Linked DNA regions of Homo sapiens. The gene in region 1 interacts genetically with each later gene. Each region holds a gene or a part of one and is shown on either strand. Other genes may lie near its edges.

The links.
Region 2: changes in RICTOR (region 1) and TRAPPC13 together harm fitness more than expected from each alone (negative genetic interaction), as found in Homo sapiens cells (one large-scale study listed by BioGRID).

The regions. Positions count from the first base shown.
Region 1 is NC_000005.10:38,952,400-38,955,899, reverse strand, and holds part of RICTOR (rapamycin-insensitive companion of mTOR), read left to right. Parts: intron 1-195; coding exon 196-305; intron 306-1,038; coding exon 1,039-1,126; intron 1,127-2,346; coding exon 2,347-2,439; intron 2,440-2,808; coding exon 2,809-2,915; intron 2,916-3,474; coding exon 3,475-3,500. UniProt on the Homo sapiens protein: Component of the mechanistic target of rapamycin complex 2 (mTORC2), which transduces signals from growth factors to pathways involved in proliferation, cytoskeletal organization, lipogenesis and anabolic output.
Region 2 is NC_000005.10:65,638,527-65,642,026, forward strand, and holds part of TRAPPC13 (trafficking protein particle complex subunit 13), read left to right. Parts: intron 1-3,500.

The sequences.
Region 1 (3,500 bases):
GTGAGGAAAATGGCAGATATGGGGGTCATTAGTATATAGTACTAGTTGAAACCTGAGCCAAAAGCTTATGGATATGATAGAACATTTGCATTCATAATACCTTGATCTGTCTACCCTTTGCTAAGTATCTGACATATTTTAAATTTAGTGACTCATTGTGATACTATGTGCAATTAAAACAATATTATCCTCTAGGAATACAACTCCAAATATGTTGACTTGATTGAGGAACAACTCAATGAAGCACTTACTACTTACCGGAAGCCTGTTGATGGTGATAACTATGTTCGTCGGAGTAACCAAAGGTGCGTACCCAGTTATCAGATTTAAAACTAGTTCATCATAAATTATTTTTAACATTTCTGAGTTTTTGTATATTCTGCTTCTAACATGATATAGGAAGAATCTTAATGCGCAGCATTAATTGCTCAAAAATTCAGTGGCATTCATGGCATGTTGAATATCCTTACTGATAACGCATTCACATATACTCCATGCTGGCACCCCAGTCTGTATTTCTAGGCCTAGATTCTCTTACCAGTACTTTGAGCTCTGATAAACTGTTACAGGTTGAACATCACTTATCCAAAATGATGAAATGTTTCGCATTTCAGATTTTTTCAGATTTGGAATATTTGCATATATATAACGAGATACCTTGGGAATGGTACCCAAGTCTAAACATGAAATTAATCTGTTTCATATACGCCTTATACACGTAGCCTAAACATAATTTTATGCAGTGTTATAAGTAATTTTCTGTATGAAATAGTTTGCATTAAATACTAATGTGTGGAATTTTCCACTTACAGTGTCATGTCAGTGCTCAAAAAGTTTTGGATTTTGGATCATTTTGGATTAGGGAAGCCCAGCCTATATTTTACCTGAGAAATCCTCATTCCTTGTTACTTTCATATTTTTATTTATGCTGGAGAGTTGTATCTAATTTTATTTATCAAACATTTATTAAAATTCTTTTGTTCTAATTAGCATATTTAAATTAGCCAAGAGATATAGTAATCATCTTTATTATACTAGATTACAGCGTCCTCACGTCTACCTGCCTATACACCTTTATGGACAACTAGTACACCATAAAACAGGCTGCCATTTGTTGGAAGTACAGGTAAAAACATAATTCACTTATTTTAAGTAGCTACAATAGTAAAAAAAAAACAAAATCTTAACATTGCTAAAATATTACCTTTGCAAAAACTTCTCAAAAGCTTTAATATCAGTGGTGTAATTGCTTTTAAATTCATCTATTTTGTAATTGACTTAGGCATTCTATATTTATTAACCTGAGAAATATTAATGGCCTTGCAATGCATTAACTGACTTGTGTATGACTTTTTGAATAACTAACTTGTTATGTAGAGTAAGCAATCCAATGAAGATCTGAGTTCTTTTTTTAGAGTTTAGTGGAGAAATTCAGATCTCCAAAAACGTACTGAAAAACCGAGTTTTTCTTCCACTCATTGGGAAATTAAACTGAACCTAATACAGATTAAGTTATCCTTGTTGAGCAATAAATTGAAAGTTGCTGGTTGTGAGCACATTTTATTCTCGCGTACTTCATGGAATGTTAACAAGCATAGGCAAGCAGTTGTTCTTTGAGTTATAATATGTACACCGCATTTATGGTTGTGAATATGTCATGCAACTGTTTCCAATAAATGTAACGTTTCTCTTATTTTAGAAATAAAGTTATAGGAATATTTGTTTTTGTGACAGAACAATAGTTATTTAACAATTTAGTTCCCGATTGTATCAGTATTCATCTCAAGAGCACAAAGTTTTGCATAAATGTACTCTATAGTTTCATGTGTTTTTATATTACGTCTGTGAAAACTGTTGGGACAAGTATTTTCATATTAACATTTGAAAATTTCACTAAAAATTTAAATGATTTTCTCAGTGTTACTACTTACATAGTATGATAAAACCTAAGCACTAATTTACTTTCTGTTTTAAAGAATAAGTATGATTATTTAGTAATACTAAGTGCCAAGTACTTTGGTAAGCACTGTATGTGCAATAATTTATTAAATCTTGAAACCTTATGATGCAAATGTTATTATCACTCTTCTAGATATTAGGAAATCAAAGGATGAGGAGATGAAGTAACTTGCCCAAGGCCATGCAGTTAATAAGTGATAATTCTAGAATGTGAATTCAGAACCCCTGCCCTATGCTGCTTCTCAAGAAATTTTACATAAAATTATTTAGAATTTAAATATGCAAAAATGACAAAAAACAAACGTTATACTGGTTTTATGATGCAATAATAATATATTAAATACATAAATATATTATTACTCATGGTATTTTTTTTTCTTTCTCCAGAATATTATTACAGAACTCTGTCGTAATGTTCGTACACCAGATTTGGATAAGTGGGAAGAAATTAAAAAACTGAAAGCATCTCTTTGGGCCTTGGTTTGTAATAAACACTTCTGTAAGATCTTCGCAATTTTTAGATTTTTAAGTTTTTTTTTCATTTATACTAAATAGATAAATATTTTCTTTGGAACTACTTATTAGATTAATATTTAAGACTGGATTGTTCCTGCCAATATAAGTGTATTATCTCTATGTTGAAGAATAGATGGTTGAACTATTGGTTTCATGACTTTTGTTTTGTTGCTAAGACAACTAGAATTAATTCATGCCTAATGTTTTGTACTTGAGGAGGCTTTTACATTTTTTCTCTCTCAGAGATGAGGTTAAATTTGTTTCTTGGTAGCTTTCCAAATCTTTTGAAAGAGTGACTCTTATATTTGATGTAAGTGATTTCTTTTCTTTCAGGGAAATATCGGCTCATCAAATTGGGGTCTCAATTTGCTACAGGAAGAAAACGTGATTCCAGATATACTAAAACTTGCAAAACAGTGTGAAGTTCTTTCCATCAGAGGGTAGGTCATTTAACTCAGAAATCTTTCTAATGTAGACGTTGTTATTCACAAATGGATGTTAGGGGAAAGTATTTTATGATTAAGTGCAATGCATAACTGTTAATCCACTGAAAGTTCTAATGATACAAGATTATTAACTGTATTAAGTTAAACATCTAAACGAACTCCTTGTTTACTACTATAATTTGATTTTTATTATATTGAAGTTTACCTTGTAGGTAACAGGTAAGGCATAGTGTTGTACAGATACTCCAGTATTCCTGTAACCCAGCTGTTCCAGATTTATACTAGAAAAGCTAATATACCTTTTTTGCTCATGTTGCATTGTGTTCTTTTTATTTTGTTGTAATTACTATTTTTATTGGGAAGGTTTGCTTGTTTTTTATTGCTGCTAATTTATTCCTGACTAGTCTTAATAAGTTTTTTTTTTTCCACAAACGCAACCATTTTGGTGGGTTTTAGAGAAAGTTCAAAGTATGTATAGCAAATTAATCTGTGGTGGCTTTAAGAAATCTCAGCTTGGAATTATAACTGTTTTTACTGCATCTTTTATATACAGGACCTGTGTATATGTACTTGGGCTCA
Region 2 (3,500 bases), about 27 Mb from region 1:
CTTTTAACAGTGAACAAATTTCACTTGGTAAGAGTCCGTAAGGTGGTACAGAGGAATAGTAGCTGTATTAGTCCATTTTCATGCTGCTGATAAAGTCATACCCAAGACTGGGCAATTTACCAAAGAAAGAGGTTTAATGGACTTATAGTTCCACGTAGCTGGGGACAATCATGGCGGAAGGCAAGGAGGAGCAAGTCATGTCTCACGTGGATGGCAGCAGGCAAAGAGAGAGAGCTTGTGCGGGGAAACTCCCATTTTTAAAACCATCAGATCTCAGCCAGGCGTAGTGGCTCATGCCTGTAATCCTAGCACTTTGGGAGGCCAAGGCGGGTGGATCACTTGAGTTCAGGAGTTCGAGACCATCCTGCCCAACGTGGTGAAATACCATCTCTACTAAAAATACAGAAATTAGCCAGGAGTGGTGGCGTGTGCTTGTAATCCCAGCTACCTGGGAAGCTGAGGCAGGAGAATCACTTGAACCTGGGAGGCTGAGGTTGCAGTGAGCCAAGACTGTGCCACTGCACTCCAGGCTGCCTGGGTGACAGAGTAATACTCCATCCCCCAAAAAATAAAAATAAAACCATCAGATCTCATGAGACTTATTCACCGTCATGAGAACAGCACAGGAAAGACCCACCCCCATGATTCAATTATCTCCCACCAGGCCCCTCCCACAACACATGGGAATTACGGGAGCTACAAGATGAGATTTGGGTGGGGACACAGAGTCAAACCATATCAGTAGCCATACAATAGAGCATCTTGAAAGCCAGGCTAAGGTTTTATTTAACCTTTTTTGAAAAATTATTTTTTAAAATGGACAAAAAAATTAATTAAGAAAAAAAAAAACAGGCCTGGCACAGTGGCTCATACCCAGAATCCCAACACTTTGGGAGGCTGTGACAGAAGGATTACTTGAGGCCAGGAGTTCAAGACCAGCCTGGGAAACATAACGAGACTCCCATCTCTACAAACAATTTAAAAAGTAGTTGAGCATGCTGGCACACACCTGTAGTCCCAGCTACTCAGGAAGCTGAAACTGGAGGATTGTTTAAGCCCAGGAGTTTGAGGCTGCATTGAGTTTTGCCTGGGCACTCCAGCATGGGCTACAGAACAAGACCTGTCACTGAAAAAAATTAAATAAAAAACAGCAGGCAGTTGGCTTTTGAGCACTCTTTGTGTTAGAAAGACTGATATGAGCACATTGTGTGGGATGCTTTGTAGAAAATGGAACAGTTAGAAGACCTTTGAAGTAGTGTAGAAATTAAAAGATAGAATATGCTAACTCCGCTAATGACCTGAAATTTCTTCAAAAGAAAAAGAGCAAAAAGAAGGTAAGAACTCACAGTATGTGGGGGAGAGGTTTTTGTAAAACCTGTCTTAGAGTGATGAGTTCAGGTAATTGGAGTATTCCAAAAAGGACCTCTAATTAGAATGAGTTTGAAAATGATCATAGAGTTTTAAAGTTAACAAGGACGTTAGAGAGCAAATAGACCCAACTTCCAGAAACTGGATGCAAATTTGTGCATACACGTACATATGTTTGTCATATATGGATGGGGTCTCTGCCTTTCATTAAATTAGGAGTTGACAAACTACAGCCCAAAGACCAAATTTGGTCCATTGTCTGTTTTTATAAGGCTTTTGAACTAAGAATGGTTTTCACATTTTCAAATTATTGAAAAGAATATTTTGTGACTTGTGAAAATTACATGAAATTCAAATTTCAGGCCAGGTGTGGTGGCTCCTGCCTATAATCCCAGTGCTTTGGGAGCCAAGGCAGGAAGATTGCTTCAGGCTACGAGTTTGAGACCAGCCTACACAACATAGCAAGGCACCGCCTCTACAAACAAACAAAAAAGAAATTCAAATGTCAGTGTCCTTAAATAAAGCTTTACTGACACACAGCCATACTCATTTGTTTATGTTTTATCTGTGGCTGATTTCCAGCTACCACAGCAGAGTTGTATATAGTTGAAACGGAGATTGTATGGCCTCTAAAATCTAAAATATTTGCTAATGACTTCAGAGAAAAAGCTTGCCAACCTCTACATTCGATTGTGAAAAGATCTGATTTTCAAAAGTTTGAGAACATATACTTTTGTCTTTCTATGTTGTAAATATTGAATTTCTTGGAATTCAGTAAATACTGGCAATTCAGTAAATTCAGTAAATATTGAATTTATTTTTATAAGAGATTAATAAAATAGCAAAGGCATATACTTTAAGATGTCAGTACTATAAAGATCAAAGAATACAGTAGTATGCATGTTCTAAAACATGATTTTATATTTCATGCCTTTATTCACTTTTATAATAATAATTATAAGCAGTGTAGTACTCACTAGGGGTCTTAGGCTCAACTAGACATTCAGACTCATGATATATAATAATGCTATTTTTCTTTTTCTTTCTTTTTTTTTTTGAGAGAGGATCTAGCTCTGTCACCCAGGCTGGAGTGCAGTAGCATGATCATAGCTCACTATAACCTCAAACTCATGGGCTCAAGGGATCCTGCTGCCTTAGCCTCCTGAGTAGCTGGGATTGCAGGGGTGTGACACTATCCCTGTCTAATTTTTTAATATTTTTTAGAGACAAGGTCTTGCTATGTTGCTCAAGCAGGTCTTGAACTCCTGAACTCAAGCAAGCCTCCCGCATCAGCCTCCCAAAGTGCTGGAATTACACATGTGAGCCACCATATCTGGCCAGATAAGCCAATTGTGACATCAGAATCACTTAAGAGGATATAGGTCATGAAGCACAGCTTGATATTGACCTGTATTTGTGTGAGTGTTGTCTTTTGATCAGGTTTTAGGTGTCAGTATTATGGTTGCTTAATAAAAGATTTCGGATGTTTTTCCAGTATTTTCAGTGCTTTGGAACAATATGTGCATCAGGCTAGACTCAGTGGCTCATGGCTGTAATCCAGCACTTTGGGAGACCAAGGCAGGAGGAGCCCTTGAATCCAGGAGGATCCCCAGGACTCACCTGGGGAATATAATGATCGATGTCCCTACAAAAAAGAAATTTAAAAATTCTCTGGCCATGGTGGCGCATACTTGTAGTCCTAGCTACTTGGGAGGCTGAGGCAGGAGGATCACTTGAACTCATGAATTCGAGGCTGCAGTGAGCTATAATTGTGCCACTGCATCCTAGCCTGGATGACAGGGCAATACCCTGTCTGAGAAAAAAAAAAAAACAAAAAAAACAAGACAAAACAAATACAGAGAACTGTGGATCATTTAGATTACCTATTCTTTGAACGATTTGTAGAATTCCCTGCAAAATCATATGAGCTAGTTCTTTTCTTTTTTAAAATGGGGAAGCTCCCTGATAACACTTTTTCTTTTTTTTTTTTTCCTATGAATATAGTATGTTTAAGCAGTTTATCTCTAAGGGTGTCAATTTTGTTAAGCTGTTTTTTTCTAGGAAATAATCCATTTCATTTCATGTAGATTTTCACATTTATCTGCATAGAGGTCTGTAAAGTAGGCTCTTAA